2 separate regions of the Homo sapiens genome follow, and region 2 is linked to region 1. The links come from fine-mapping of genetic effects on gene expression. A gene starts in region 1. The other region holds a variant in brackets. All regions are shown on one strand. Distances are between the middles of the regions. Region 1 holds the start of WDR19 (WD repeat domain 19). Region 2 overlaps WDR19 (WD repeat domain 19).

Region 1 (8,337 bases):
TTTTGTCTAAGAAAGTCTTTACTTCTTCACTTTTTAAAATCTTTGATTTTAATTTAAAAATTAGCTTAATGATAAGTATAATTTAATGTCTATATGTAATACCATGTGTACATCTACATGAACACTGTATGTTTTACCTTGGTTTTATATCAAAGTTTTTACTTAAATCTTTACCAAGAGAAGAATCACCATCTGTTAGTGACATATTGCAATTAAACTATGAAACGATTCTGAATTTTTTTTTTCTATTTTGAAGATACTTTTATTTTTAAGGAGGAATTAGTTTCTCTTCAGATGTTCATTTTTGACTCTGAAAATTTTAATTTTTTTTGGTCTAGACTGGTTTGAAACAGTGACATTATTTTGTGTACTAGGATGTCCTCTTGTTTGGACAGATTTATATACTAATTAGAAAGCTGCTAACACCCTTATTTCAACTCACTGAGATAATTTAGATTCTTAAAACATAAGGAGAGATAACTTGTTGGAAACATTTTTATAACTTTAGTTAAAAACAGTATAAAAAACATAAAACACTTTTTTTTTTTTGAGACAGGGTTTCACTCTGTCACCCAGGCTGGAGCACAGTGGCGTGATCATAACTCAGTGCAGCCTTGAATGCCATGTGATACCCTCAAAGGATTCTCCTGGCTTAGCCTCCCAAGTAGCTGGCACTGTAGGCACATGCCACCATGCCTGGCTAATTTTTATTTATTTATTTTTTTTTGTAGCAAAGGGGTCTTGCTTTGTTGCCCAGGCCATTCTCAAATTCCTGGGCCCAAGTGAACCTCCCACCTCTGGCCTCCCAAAGTGCTGGGATTACGGGCTTGAGCTGCTACTCCTGGCCATGAAACACATTAAAACATTTTTAAGTCTACATGAAACAACTGTACCTCCTTCATAGTACAGGATCAACTTCCTCATCCTTACACAAAAATATTTCTCAATCCCATTTACTGATATTCAGGGATTTGAATCCTCATATAGTGTTTCTGTAAAAATGTGTGTGTGTGTTTTACATTAAATCATAAATCACTAGTATTGTTTGAGTAACCCCCAAATAATGTTTACATGAAATACTCTTTTTTTCAAGTCTTGATCTGATTACTGACCACTACATCCTTGTGGTATCAAAACACTTAGAACTAAAGTAGCTTTACTGTTGAGTCAGGAGGAAAATGCATGGCAAGAACAGTTCCAGTTTGAAAAAAGGCAGGTCAAGATCCTTTCACCAAAGTTAGCCATTTTGAGTTTGGCATCTAATCAATGAGGAGTGGACTCCTTCACTTGTGAAGGATAATTTTACAGGATACAGAATTCTAGATTTGTGGGTTTAAAAAAAATTCTCAACACTTTAAATATTTTATTCCGCTCTCTTCTTCCTTTCATGGTTTCTGAGAATTCAATGTAATTCTTATCTTACCTCCTCTATACATAATGCCCCCCTCCCCTCAGCTTCTTTCACGATTTTTGAAAAATATTTTATTTTTCAAAGTTTAAATATGATATGCCTAGGTGTGGTTTATTGAGCACTTATCCTGTTTGGAGTTCTCTGAGCTTCCAGGAGGTGTGATTTGTTGTCAGACATGAACTTGGGGGAAATTAATCATGAGCATTCTTCATTTCTGTTAGTGTTTTTGATCTCTAGCATTTCTTTTTGAGTCTTTATTAGAATTTCTATCTCTCTGCTTGTGTTTTCCATCTGCTCTTGCATGTTGTCTACTTTTTCCATTACCTCCAGTAGCACATTCATCTTATTTTTTTTTTAAAGTCCTGGTCTAATAATTTCAACACTCCTGCTATATATGACTCTAGTTCTCCTGCTTGTTCAGTCTCTTCAAGCAGTGTTTTTTGCCTTTTAGTATGCCTTGTAATTTTTTGTTGAAATCTGGATGCTATGGTTTGAATGTCCCCTCCAAAGCTCATGTTGAAACTTAATCACCAATGTGGCAATATTGAAAGTTGGGGCCTTTAAGAGGCAAATGGTTCCTGTGTGCCCTGCTTTCATGAATGGATTAATTCATTCAAAGATTCAGGGATTAATGGGTTAATGAATTAGTGGGTTATCATGGGAGTGAAATTGGTGGCTTTATAAGGAGACCTTAGCTAGAACGTTAGCACACTCAGCCTCCTTGCCATGTGATATCCTGTGCTGCCTCAGGACTCTTCAGAGAGTCCGCACCAGCAAGAAGGATCTCACCAGATGCACTCCCTTGACCTTGGACTTCTCAGTCTCCCTAACTATGACAAATGAGTTCCTTTTCTTTATAAATTACCCGGTTTTATGTATTCTGTCATAAACAACAGAAAACAACTAAGACACCAGACAGGATATACTGGATAAAAGGAATACTTGTAAGTAGTCTTTTAGTGGTATGTGGTAAGGTACAGGATAGGGCAAGTGTTCTATAGTCCTATGATTAGGCCTCAGCCTTTAGTGAGCCGGTGTGGATGGTAAAAGTCACCAGTACTTCCTTTTTTTTTTGAGACGAAGTCTAGCTCCGTCACCAGGCTGGAGTGCAGTGGCACAATCTCGGCTCATTGCAACCTCTGCCTCCCAGGTTCAAGCGAGTCTCATGCCTCGGCCTCCCGAGTAGCTGGGATTACAGGCATGTGCCACCACGCCAGGCTAATTTTTTTTTTTTTTTTTTTTTTTTGAGCAGAGTCTTGCCTTGCTCTGTCGCCAGGCTGGAGTGCAGTGGCACGATCTAGGCTCACTGCAACCTCCCCCTCCCGGGTTCAAGCGATTCCCCTGCCTCAGCCTCCCGAGCAGCTGGGACTACAGGTGCCCACCACCATGCACAGCTAATTTTTTGTATTTTAGTAAAGACGGGGTTTCACCATGTTGGCCAGGCTGGTCCTGAACTCCTGACCTCAAGTGAGCCCCCCACCTCGAACTCCCCAAGTGCTGAGATTACAGGCGTGAGCCACTGAGCCTGGCCACCAATACTTCTTTTTGCTGTTTTTTTTGACGGAGTCTCGCTCTATCGCCCAGGCTGGAGTGCAGTGGCGCGATCTCCGCTCACTGCAAGCTCCGCCTCCCGGGTTCACGCCGTTCTCCGGCCTCAGCCTCCCGCGTAGCTGGGACTACAGGCGCCCGCCAATACTTCTTAATCTCCCACACTTAAGTGGAACAGGATGGTTTATGGAGGCTGAAGTTGAGTATTTCCCTTCTCCCAGGTAGTTTAGGCTCTGATAAAACCCCAGCAGACTAGGCTTTGGTAAAAATACTTTCTCCTGAGGGCAGGTCTTGTTAAGAACTGATTGCTCTGGCTATTTTTAAATGGTTACCCTTTCAGCAGAGGAATCTTTCAGTAAAAATTTAAGTAATTAACCTAACTGTCAGAGGCGTTTGAACCAGAGCGATTCCATTTTGAGTGAGGGCTAGGAAAATGAGGCTGAGACTTGCTGGGCTGAATTCTCAGAATTTGGGCATTCCTCGCCTCTAGATGTTTACGATTAAGGGAATAAATTAATAATGTTTACTAAAACAGACCCAGATATCGGGATATCTGGAGAACAAAGGCATTCCTAATTTTGCTTTAAAGATAATAATATCAATTCCTGCAAAATAATTAAGAAAATTAATCTTTGATCACAAACCCTTGTAGCAGAGCACATCTCCCCATATATACAAGCATTGTACCTAGGGTGGATGCGTCCCTTCTCTTGCTTTCAGGAATGTCCTACTCTGTCTATGGAGTAGCTGTCCTTTCACCACTTTACGTGTTTTAATAAACTTGCTTTTCTCAGCACTGAGAACTCGCCCTGAATTCTTTCTTGCGCGCGATCCAAGAACCCTCTCTTGGGGTCTGGATCCGGACCCCTGTCGTAACGTAACTGAAAACCCCAGTGCAAAGGCATAGCACCCTACTTAAGAATTTGCAAACATTCATTATTAGTTATTTCAAATCATTGATTAACTTTCTCTAAGCCAATCAGATTCCTACCTGATGTCGAAAAGAAAAGCAAAAGGTAGACTGTTTCAACACTTTCAGACGCTTGGGTAAAAGATGCACTTTCATGCTATAAATAATGCAGCACAAATACTGTACAACAGGGCTTTATACTTGGGGAAAAGCTGCCAGATCCAAACTCTAAAGGAAAACTATTGGAGCTCATTTTTCCTGCCCACGTTAGCTAGCACATTTTGTTGACATTGAAAAAAAAAAAAGATTTTGGTGAAACTGAAAAAAAAAAAGCACCAACAACCCTACCTTGAAATAAACTATTGTACCTCTTATGCCTCCTCCCTTCTACCCCAGAAACCTGGAAGAAAAAAAGATATACCCGAGCTCGTCCAACCCCTCTTTGCGTGGACTGTATAGGAGTATTTAGCCCATCCTGCCTCCTTTAATCTAACATTCTGCGTCTTCTTTCCTTCAGCTTCTCGGCGCCCCCTTTGGCCAGCACTGACATCTTAGTCATCGCGGTCCAAAATTTACGCACGCGCCTTTGAGGGCTCACAGAGCCCGTCTCTCCCGGACGAATCTCATCCAATCAGAGCCAGCCAGGAAGCCGAGGCTCAGCAAGGCCTCGCGACGCCCAACTTCCCAGGGTTAGCGTCTCTGATGTCATGTGATTCCACCCTCCGCCTCTCACCCACCCTCGCAGAGGGCGGTGCGCTTGGCCCGGCCCCTCGAGGCACCGCCTTTCAATTAGCACTCGCTGATTGGTCGCTGCTCGCGCGGTCTCCTGGGTGACGGGAACGCGGTAGCCTGCTTGGTGGAGACCGGGTGCGCCTGCGTACTTCATAGTTCGCGTAGCGGCTCGAGCGTGGAGATGAAGGTAAATAACTTACAAATTCCCGGGGTGGGGCGGGAAAACGCGACTACTGGCCCTTGGTCGCTTTTAAAAGAGGATATCTGTCCCTCTCCCTTCTGAGTTCGTTGGAAATGAGGAAGAGAGAGAGAGAGAGAGGTGGCCAGAGAGAGCGGGGGCGAAGCTGAAGGGACGAGAGAAAGGAAAGAAAATAGGAGGAGAGGAGAGGGCGGAGAGAGAGGCCTCTCGTTTTGGGGACTGCAGACGCCGTAGAAGCGGTGCAGAAAGTGGGAACCCCTCCCTGGCCGAAATGAGCGGACTGGATCTAAAGATACCCCAGCTTCGCACGCGGAAAGAACTGGTCGAGTTAACGCGTTTGGAGGGTCGCTGTGAAGTTGACTGGGTCCGATGTCACGAGCTACCTCATTTCTTGGGGCTAAGCCTCTGGCAAGCCGCGCAGCTGCCCAGCGCCTTAAAAAGAATGAAAAGCCTCCTAAAGAATAACTTCAAAATGTATTACCTGTGACCAGTCCAATCACCTGCTAGCGAGTGTACATTATTGACGGGAAATCTGCACCCGAAAACTCAGGTCTCACGCTCATGTGCCTCATCCTCTGCACGCACGGTTTCTAGGCTTGGGCTTCTTGTTCACCCCACTTTCTGATTTATCAGAGCAGTCCCCCCTTGCTCTGCTCTGGCAAAGAAATGGAAGGCTTTTTTTTTTTTTTTTTTTTACTGAGTCTCGCTCTGTTACCCAGGCTGGAGTGCAGTGGCGCAATCTCTGCTCCCTGCAACCTCCACCTCCTGGGTTCAAGCGATTCTCCTGCCTCAGCCCCCCGAGTAGCTGGGACTACAGGCGCGTGCCACCACACCCAGCTAATTTTTTGTATTTTTAGTAGAGATGGGGTTTCACCGTGTTAGCCAGGATGCTGTCACTCTCCTGACCTCATGATCCCCCGACCTCGGGCTCCCAAAGTGCTGAGATTACAGGCGTGAGCCACCGCGCCCGGCTGGAAGGCTCAATTTTAAAATTATTTTAGATGTCCTCATGCTTCTTCGTGGCTATTAGTGTGGAAATTGGAATTGACGGACCAGTAATCATAACTCCCATTTTTATTTCTAAAGCTCTTTACAATTTATGAAATATTAGAAGTGAAGAGTTATTATTCATGATTTACAGTTGAGAATTTTTTGCTGGAGGCAATTTAAACGACTTACTTAAAGCCCTACAGCTAATAAGCTACAAACAAAATTTAAGTCTTGGTTTTTTGGTTGTGAAACTAGCAGTTTTTCCTCTGCACGGTATGTGGAGCATCTATAGAGCTCCACTGAAAAAAAATAATATGAAATCACAGCTAGAGGCAAGTCAGCCATTGAAGGTAATGAAATTCAAGTTTAAGGACTTCTCACTTGCATGAAGGAGTTCCAGGGTGAAATGGTCACAAAATTGCAAAAGTAAGATGCTTTTAAATATTCTTTCTTCATGAGTTTCTTTATGCTCTATAAAACTTTTATGTCCCATGATCATAGCCCACCTCTACTTTCAATAGAGGGGAATTTCTTCTTTAGCATGTAAAATGCTCATTGGGACAGGGTGCGGTGGCTCACGCCTGTAATCCCAGCACTTTGGGACGCCGAGGCAGGTGGATCACTTGAGGTCAGGAGTTCGACACCAGCCTGGCCAACATGGTGAAACCCTGTCTCTACCAAAAATATTTTTAAAATTAGCCGGGCGTGGTAGCGTGTGCCTGTAATCCCAGCTATTCGGGAGGCTGAGGCAGGAGAATCGCTTGAACCCAGGAGGCGGAGGTTGCAGTGAGCCAAGATCGCCCCACTGCACTCCAGAGCCTGGGCGACAGAGCAAGACGCTGTCTAAAAAAAAATAAAAATAAAAATAAACAACCTCACTGCTTTGTGTTTGGTTGTTGGTTGTTAATTTATTTATTTTGAGACGAAGTCTTGCTCTGTCACCCAGGCTGGAGTGCAGTGGCACCATCTCGGCTCACTGCAACCTCCACCTCCCGGGTTCAAGGGATTCTCGTGCCTCAGCCTCCCAAGTAGATGGGATTACAGCAAGCGCCACCATGCCCAGCTCATTTTTTGGTAATTTTAGTAGAGACGAGGTTTCGCCATGTTGGCCAGGCGGTGTTTAATTTTGAGCATTGTAAGAGTTTTGTGTTGCCGCACAGACTAAGTCCCGTGTAACAGTATCTAAATTTCATATGCCTAGAAATGGGCATCATTGTTTAATCTATAATTTAACCTAATATTGAAATCTAAATTTTTTCACTGAAACTCATATTCCTAAATGTTCTAGATCAACACTGTCTGATATAAATGTACTGTGAGCTAATGTAATTTCATATTTTTATTGACCATTAAAATTTTTTAAGAAAACAGGTAAAATTTATTTTAATAATATATTTTATCTTACCCAGTATATCAAAAATGTTATTTCAACATGTAATCAATATAAAAATTAACAACGAGATAGTTTACATTCTTTTTCCAGTTGTTGAAATCTGATATACATTTTATATTTACAGCACAGCTAGGTTGGGATTACTTATATTCCAAGTCCTCAATAGCTACATGTGGTTTGTAGCCTCCATATTGGACATCACGTTTCTTGATTGTTTCAAGGAAAAGAAAGAGTTTTCAGTTGATAACACTATTCACCCAGTAGCCAAGTTAAACACTTAATGATGATGTAAATATAACTAATGGAACTAATAGAAGAAAATAATGTTGAAAGGAGTAAAGACATTTTGTGTTTTTATCATGTTTAAGATAGCAATTTTTGTTCAGTTTAATCACCAGGAATCCGTGCCACAGATAATTAACTGAATTCAGGCTTCAATTATTTTAGTCTTTAACATCTACAAAACACTAAAATTACATATTTTTGTAAAATTAACATTCAGAAACATTAAAAAGCCAAAAAAAATTTAAAATAAAAGCCCTCCTATATCTTGAGATCTGTAATTTACCAAGTAGTTGTGTATGTTTAGTTGGTTGGTTGATTTTGTTTTATTTCTTTTGTTGTTAACTTCTAGATAAGCTCTAACATAATCCTCACTATCCTGAATCCTATGAAAACATGGTTTTCATGACCATGTTTTGATACCTTTTCTGATCAACACTTGATTGTATGTTTTGAAAATATTAAAAATTGTGTTTATTTTTTAGCGTATTTTCTCACTGCTAGAAAAGACTTGGCTTGGCGCACCAATACAGTTTGCCTGGCAAAAAACATCAGGAAACTACCTTGCAGTAACAGGGTAAGAAACCAATGAATGTTTTAAGCAGTGGTTGCATGCCCATGTAATCACACCATCTACTCAGTAGAAGTTTTTTTTGTTGTTGTTTTTTTTTTTTAAATGGAGTCTAGCTTTGTTGCCCAGGATGGAGTGCAGTGGCACGATCTCAGCTTGCTGCAACCTCCGCCTCCCAGGTTCAAGTGAACCTGGCCTCAGTAAAAGTTTTTGTCTAACAGTTATATGACAGGAAAAGGAATATATTCATCTCCATTAACATGAAAGTTCATAGAACCTTTTCCCTGGTAATAACTTTTTA
Region 2 (8,337 bases), 89 kb after region 1:
CTTTGCCACCTATGAGATAGCCATGCCCCTCTAGATAACAATCCTCACCACATACAATTTTTCTCAAATGTTATAATTTTGTTTATTCTAGGAACTATGAAAAAAGATCACTGATGTTGCAACTATGACCTAGCATTCATCTCTAAAACTCAGAGGGTGCTTTGTTTACATTTCAAAAATTATGGAAGTTAACAAAAATCAGATTAAGCATAAAGGTAGTTCTCTATAACATAAAATAGAAATAAATTGGCCAGGCGCGGTGTCTCATGCCTGTAATCCCAGCACTTTGGGAGGCCAAGGCGGGTGGATCACTTGAGGTCAGGAGTTGGAGACTAGCCTGGCCAACATGGCGAAACCCCGTCTCTACAAAAAATATAAAATTAGCCAGGCATGGTGGCATGCGCCTATAGTCCTAGCTACTCAGGAGGCTGAGGCAGGAGAATTGCTTGAAGCCAGGAGGCAGAGGTTGCAGTGAACCGAGATTGTGCCACTGCACTCCAGCCTGGGCGACAGAGTGAGACTCCATCTCAAAAAGAAAAAGTAAGAAAGAAATCATTACAAGCATATTTTCAAAATATGCGACTCACTGTGGCTTCCTACAGAACGTCCATCTTCTCCCAGTCCTGGTGAGGAGAGACCCACACACCTTTGAGAATGCCCCAGACCTCCTTCCCCTTTGCTTTATGTTCAAGGAGATTTGCTGGTGAAGAACTCAAGTCACTGATTGGAAACGAGGGCAATAGAATGTCACAGCTGGAGAGGACCGTAGTGGTCCCTGAGTCCATTTTCTGCATCTTACAGATAAAGCCACAGAGACCCAGAGCAGCTCAGTTAACTTGCCAAAGGATACAGGCCCTTCAACTGCTCCAGCCACCTCCCATGGTGTCCACTTATTCCAATAATTTGAAAACCAGCGTCAGATGCTCGCAGCTGTCTAGAGTTGGAATAGGAATGGAAAATGGCCAAAGGCCAAAGAAAATGTTATAGGTCAGAGAAAATTGATATGCATATAAAAATTATGGAAAGTTTGCAAAGTTCATATATCATGTAAGAATATATTTTGTTTCCAAGTACATGAGAAATACTCTGTGGAGTAGGGTCAGGAATAGACTCAGATCCTGTGGTTCAAATCCTGACTGGCCCCCTCCTGTTGTTTCAGCTTCTTATCTGTGAAATCGGGATAACAATAGTGCCTTCTTCCTAGGGTGGGTATGAGGATTTAAATGCATTAGTATTTCTCAAGTACTTAGAATACCACCTGGCCATATTGAGCTCTGAATAAATGTTTAATAAATAAACGAATTCTTTATTCATTGAGTTTTTAAAGCAATATCAATTCTCAGTTACTGGCAGATGAATGTGATTCTAACTGCAATACAAAAATGTAATCTCCCCTTAGCTAATGAAGAAAGTAATGTTTCTATAATGGTTTATGTGTCAGGATGCCAAGTACCTGTTCCGCTTGTACATGGCTCTGAAGCAATACCGAGAAGCTGCCCAGACTGCCATCATCATTGCCAGAGAAGAGCAGTCTGCAGGTAGGTCCGTGATACGTATGTGTTACTTCCCAAGCAGGCAGCAGAATCAAGCCCCAGCCCCTTTTCTGTGTAGGAAAGAGTAGCCCCTACGTTTGTAACATAGGCTTGCTTTGAACCCAAAAGACTAAAGAGATGACCATTTCTAGGTTTCAGAGGGGTTAAACAATGTACTATCCCAGGAGACTGTATAAATGTAAGAGACTAAGACCATCTCTTGTCAAGTGCTATTTCCTCTCCCCCACAACCTCAGAGGTTCTGTCTCATGAATGATGTCTCCTCTCACCCCTCCAGCCCACAACCCCCTTCCTACAGTCTCACGGCATTTTCTTTCCATTCCCTGTGTTTGGCCTTAACAATATGAGACATTAGGCGATGGAGGGTAATGATGCGGTGCTGTTACAGACCTAGTTCTTTATAATATGCAGAGGCTTGATAGACTCTTCAGGATGGTTCTGCTCACATGTGCTCTGTCAATACTTATTGAGTGAGTAAGAGGATTAGTCTGATATCTTCATTAATTTTTATGAGCTGATCTTCTTAAATCTTTATAAATGTGGACACAATTTTGGAAAATATGCAGTCAAATAAGTCATTACTTTATTCAGCTTACGTTGATCTAACAACACCTTCTTCCTGTCAGATGCGTGCTAGGAGCTCAGGATACAGAGAGAACTGAGCCACAGTTCAACCCTCAAGGTCATGATTTGATGGGAGAGACAGAAAGTAAATTCAGAGTTGGACGGGATGACAAGTGCCAGACTAGAAAGAGAAATAGGCTGAAAAGGCACAATTAAAATAAGAGCGACTGCTGGGTTACCCACAGCATCCTGAAGGTTGGGGTAGGGAGAGTTGGAGGATGGAGACGAGAGAAGGCAATGAAAGCTTTACCTGAGTTTTGAAAGGATGGGGGAGCAGGTGACGAGGGGAGTGGAGGTTGCTGGGAGCCAGAGTGCTGGGATTTGGGGAAATGGGGAGGTGGGGAAGTGCTGGGATGAGGAAAAGTGCTGGCAAGGCTGCAGCATTTACACACCTGGAGAAGAAAGGGAGGGAAAATCAGGCCAGAAAGGAGCGCAGAGGCCGATCCTGAAGGGCACAAGTCCTCTGCTCAGGAATTTGCACTTCCAGGCGTGAGTGGCGCCATTGGAGGGTTTTATGCAGGGGTGTGACCTTGAGTTGTTTGGGTGTGGATCAAGGCTTGAGGGTTTTGAAGGCATACTCTGACATCAGATGTGGGCCCAGAGCAATCCTGATGAGCACTACAGCAGAAGGAAATGATGAGAAGCATTCACAGTAGGCATGGGAAGGGAGGCTGGAATTGGGAGACTGAGAGTTATACTCAGAACTCCATGGCCTGGTGGACTTCAGGGCCAGGGGGGTGCCCTGAGGAAGAGTAAGACATCAAGGAGGACACCACCATTTTTCACCAGAGCAACTGGCTAGATGTTCATAACATCAATTAAAATAGGAAATCTGGCCGGTCACAATGGCTCATGCCTGTAATCCCAGCACTTTGGGAGGCCGAGGAGGGTGGATTTCTTGAGCCAAGGTGTTTGAGACCAGCCTGGGCAACATGGTGAAAACCTTGTCTCTACAAAAAACACAAAAATTACCCAGGCATGGGAGGATCACTTGAGCTTGAGAGGCAGAGGTTGCAGTGAACAGAGATTGTGCCCTTGCACTCCAGCCTTGGTGACAGAGCGAGACCCTATCTCTGACAGACAGACAGACAGATAAATAGGAAATCTGCTGAGTTGCTTTGAATAAGACATTATTAAGAGATTACTAATAACAAGATTAACAAAATCCACTAGTAAGATGGGGGTCCATAGAATGTCCTCAGATGTCACCCTTTGCAGTAATGTCGTTTTACCACCTTTTTTCAAGGCAACTACCGGAATGCACACGATGTTCTCTTCAGTATGTATGCAGAACTGAAATCCCAGAAGATCAAAATTCCCTCCGAGATGGCCACCAACCTCATGATTCTGCACAGCTATATACTAGTAAAGGTGAGGCCCATGGAGTGACTTGGGACATAACCTGCCAGGTGTTTGTCCCCCATTGAGATTTTCTCCAGGCCCTTCTCCATTGGATTCGAGTGATTGTCTAGATGTCTGTATTGTTAAGTAACAAAACAAGATACAGAACATATCTACAATACGCTGCTTTGTGTGGAATGAGGCACGGGGCAGGAGGCACAG[T/C]ACCAAACTCCAGTGTGGGGACAGGGAGACGGGGAGATGAGGGGGACCAGGCTTCATCATGTGCATCTTATTATAGTGTGTGGGTTGTTTTGTTTTGTTTTTGAGACGACGTCTTGCTCTTTACCCAGGCTGGAGTGCAGTGGCACGTCCTCGGCTCACTGCAACCTCTGCCTCCCAGGTTCAAGCAATTCTTCTGCCTCAGCCTTCCAAGTAGCTGGGATTACAGGCACACACCACCACACCCAGTTAATTTTTTTGTATTTTTAGTAGATATGGGGTTTCACCATGTTGGCCAGGCTGATTTCAAACTTCTGACCTCAAGTGATCCGCCCGCCTTGGCCTCCCAAAGTGCTGGGATTACAGGCATGAGCCACCACGCTCAGCTTTCTTATATTGTTTTGATTTTGAAACATGTAAATGTATTGCCTGTGCCAGAAAAATAGATTTACTTAAAACATCTTTCTTTATGCAAAACTTGTTAGTTTATTTATTCTGTTAGTGGATTTCATAAAATTCCACTGTTTTGTAAATATTGTTTAGTTTTCATCCAAATATAAAAATAATACATATTCCCTAAGAAAGTTTAAAAAATATAGAAAAGAATTTTTTTTTTTTTTTTTGAGATGGAATCTCACTCTGTCACCCAGGTTGGAGTGCAGTGGCCCGATCTTGGCTCACTGCATCCTCCACCTCCCTGCTTCAAGCAATTCCCCTGCCTCAGCCTCCTGAGTAGCTGGGATTACAGGCAAATGCCACCACACCCGGCTAATTTTTTTGTATTTTTAATAGAGATGGGGTTTCACCACGTTGGCCAGGCTGGTCTCGAACTCCTGTCCTCAGGCAATCCACCTGCCTCGGCCTCCCAAAGTGCTGGGATTACAGGCGTGAGCCACTGTGCCCGGCCAGAAAAGAATTTTTTAAAAATTCGTCCTTTAAGTCCATCACCCAGATATAACAATTGTTAATAGTGTTGTATATATTCTTTGTACTTCTATAAATGCATGTTTTTTACCAAATTGGGATTATGTTTAGTTGTGTATATTCTGTTTTTTAAATCAGTAATTATCAATACAAACAAAAATAGATCCTGCAAACATCAAGTACTTGTATGTATAATTTACATAAATGAGGCTGGGCATGGTGGCTCACACGTGTAATCCCAGTACTTTGGGAGGACAAGGCAGGAGGATCACTTAAGCCCAGGAGTTTGAGGCTGCAGTGAGCTATAATCACACCATGGCACTCCAGCCTGGGCAACAGAGCGAGACCTCAACTCTAAAAAAAGACACAATACAACTTACATAAATGTCATGTATATTCATGTGTACATTTATATATATACATATCTCTGTAAAGATACAGGCAGACTCCAACTTACATATTTTTTCAAATATTCATTTATGTCGCAGTACATCTTTCCGTATTAATGCTAAATTGGTTCTCTGACCTGTCCACAAGAGCAGTCATGTTATGAATGATTTACATCCTAATTATTGTCTATATCAGCACTGTCCAGTAGAATGTTCTACAGTGATAGAACTATTCTATACTGTACTGCCCAATATGGTAGCCACTAACCTGGCTATGGAGCACTTGAAATGCAGCTAGTACAGCTGATAAACTACATTTTTAATTGTATATGATTTTAACTTTTAAATTTAAGTAGCCATACGTGATTAATGCCTACCACAGGAGACTGCACAGGTCTATAATGCTGATTCTAAGGGAAATGCATCTGGAGTTATAACTTGCAACCTCCAGGAGTACACTTCCCTTCAGAGAGGCAGGAGGATCCTTCTTCCATAAAGAAGGGGGTTTGAAGGAGAGAAGTCTTTCTCAGCTGCAGACATGAGTGGTGATTCAATGTCCTGGAAGCACAGAATCTAACAAAATGGAGTCTTTAGGAGTGCAGGGGGCACAGAAACACATTGGTGAAAGATGCGGGGCAAAAATAGGAATTCCTATAAGAGGCCCTCTTGCAACAGAGCTTTCTAGCACCATAAGCCACAGGGGTGCTTCTTGAGTCCTTTTCTTTTTCTCTGGCCCCAAGGGTTGGCATCATTCCACACTCTCACCAAGTATCCTCAGCCCTGACCCCACATCTGTCTGCTTCTCTCCATCCCCACTGCCCCACCTTTTTGGCCTCCTTGTCTCACCCCTGGATGACTGCAGTGGCTTCATGTCCTGGCCCCTGCTGACTCTCGAGGCTCACCCCATCCTAAACGCACCCCTCGATGTGTCACTGACCCTCCTGGTCCTTGCCCAGTCTCAGGCCTTCTGCCCGTCATTGCCCTCTTAGCACAGACACGGCGCCTTTCCTTTAGCAGATCATTCTCTCTCTCTCTACCTGATTCCTGACTCACACAGCTTTTGGGTCTTACCAGAACTTGGTGAAGTTGGTCCCCCAAGAATGGCCAGTAAGAGATAGACTGGGGATTTGAACCCATACCAAGTGGTCTAGGGCAAAGTGAAAAGCAGAGCATAGAGTAGGTGAGGCCATGGGGCCAGGCAGTAGCTGTTGAAGAGAAAAAAGTGGAGGGATCTCTAATGGCATCAGCCAGGAAAGTCTACAAGGATCCCACAGTGACCCTGGGCCATCATCAAGGAGTTGTTTATTTGGGGGAACAAAGCATGAATTGGGGCTAATCAATGACTATAAGAAGAGTAAAATATGTCATTTGTTTCAGATTCATGTTAAAAATGGAGATCACATGAAAGGGGCTCGCATGCTCATTCGGGTGGCCAACAACATCAGCAAATTTCCATCACGTAAGTACCACTGACCAGAGCTCTCACCCATGCCCCATGCCCCATGCCGCATGCTAGCCCAGCGCCCCTTTTGCAGGCTCCCCTCATACACTAACTCGTTTAATTCTCACAGCAGCTCCATGAAGTGGTATGTCAGGGCCCCAAGACCACTCCCAGGTTTGATGACTCTTCACTGGGAGGATTTACAAGAGTCAACACACAGTAGTACCAAAGCCGAGATTTATCACAGCAAAAGGATCTGAGGCAAAATGAGCAGAAGGATTCACGCAAAGGCGAGCAGGTGCAGGCACGGACCTCCAAGAGTCCCTTCCCAGTGGAGCACACAGGACGCAAGTTCCGTAACTCCTCCACGACTGACTTGTACAACATGGTGAAACGTAGAGTGCCAAGAAGCTCATTAGAGACTCAGCAGCCAGGAGTTTTATTGGGGTGTGGTCACATAGGTGCCCCCTGCGTGGCATGTGCCCAGTTTTCCAGGCTCCCAGAGAGCAGGTGTTCGGCATAAACCACGTTGTTTGTACAAAGATTTTAGGCACGGTGAGCCACTCATCAGTTCTGGAAACGGTGGGAACCGTCTCCAAATCTATGTTCCAGATGCGAGCCGAGGGTTAGCTGTTCAAGCCTTTCCAAGGATGACAGTCTCAGGCCTGCACACACAAGTACTTTTCTGAACAAACTGGGACAAAAGAAATAACATTTGCCCAAGATCACATTGTCAGCTAATAATAGCCTGACTCTGTGTTCACAAGCACGGTAGGACGTTGCCTCTGAAAAGGCCTCACTATTCCAAAAGACATGTCATGATAACATTCTTAAGTGATTAAATACTGTCACATTACATGACAGGGATCAGCAAACTTTTTCTGTAAAGGACCAGATGTTAAATATTTTAGACTTCGTGAGACATGTGGCCTCTGTCACAACTGCTCAACTCTGCCATCTTCTCATGAATAATACGTAAACGAATGGGCATGACTGTGTTTCAATAGAGCTTTATGTTTGGACACAAATGTTAACCACATACACTTTTAACATGTCACAAAAATATTTTTCTTTTGATGTTTTTTCAACCATTTAAAAATGTAAAAATCATCCTTAGCTCATGGACCATACAAAAAGTCAGAGGGCTAGATTTGGTCCATGGGTCATAATTGGCCAACCCACATTCTCTAAGTGTATTTTTGTTGTTGTTACATCAAAGTCTACCATGCGGGCAAGGTATGGGATAGGACAGGCACTCTCATGACTGCTGGTGGGGATGGAAATTGGTATGGCCTTTGCAGAAAGCAGTTTGGCAATTTGTGGTAAGAGTATTTTTTAAAAGGTCCTGTTTTTGAGCCGGTAATTCTGGGTGTCTGTCCTGAAGAAAGAATTTGATGCCTGCAGAGAGATTAGTGTATAAAGTCATTAATCCCCCTAATGCTTTTATCAGCAGTCCTGTCAGATGCAAAAAATATCTAAGAGGCATGAAAGGAAACTCATGGAAGTGTTGCCTCAAGGGGTGCAGGTCCTAGTGTTACAAGGCAGAACATGGTGTCATCAAAGGAAAAGCACTTGATGGGCAGTTAGCCTGACCCCACAGCTACGTACTTTCCTCATTAAACAGATCATATCTGGTTCTTTGCAGAAAAAGCAAAGTTCAGAGACCATGACCCTGTTTTCCTACAGAACCAGGGTGGAATCCCGCCTGTATCACTGAGGACAGCAGACACTGTGCTGTTGCTGCTCTCCCCTTTTCTCTTGCAGACATTGTACCCATCCTGACGTCAACTGTGATTGAGTGTCACAGGGCAGGCCTGAAGAACTCTGCTTTCAGCTTCGCAGCTATG

The links. PIP is the estimated chance that this variant, and not a neighbour inherited with it, causes the effect.
Region 2: its variant is the best candidate, but not a certain one, in a credible set for the expression of WDR19 in whole blood (INTERVAL, PIP 0.66).

Annotation. Positions count from the first base shown.
Region 1 is chr4:39,177,776-39,186,112 of GRCh38, forward strand. It overlaps WDR19 (WD repeat domain 19), which reads left to right and starts at 4,754. Exons shown (of 37, transcript NM_025132.4): 1 at 4,754-4,788; 2 at 7,951-8,042. The coding sequence starts at 4,783. RefSeq lists enhancers at 4,423-4,602, 4,454-4,748, 4,873-5,022, 5,723-5,792.
Region 2 is chr4:39,266,554-39,274,890 of GRCh38, forward strand. WDR19 (WD repeat domain 19) reads left to right here. Exons shown (of 37, transcript NM_025132.4): 30 at 1,442-1,538; 31 at 3,423-3,547; 32 at 6,427-6,508; 33 at 8,255-8,337. Among named protein-coding and RNA genes, the nearest start is that of WDR19, 88 kb to the left of the region's middle. The variant T/C (reference allele first, on the strand shown) is at 3,740.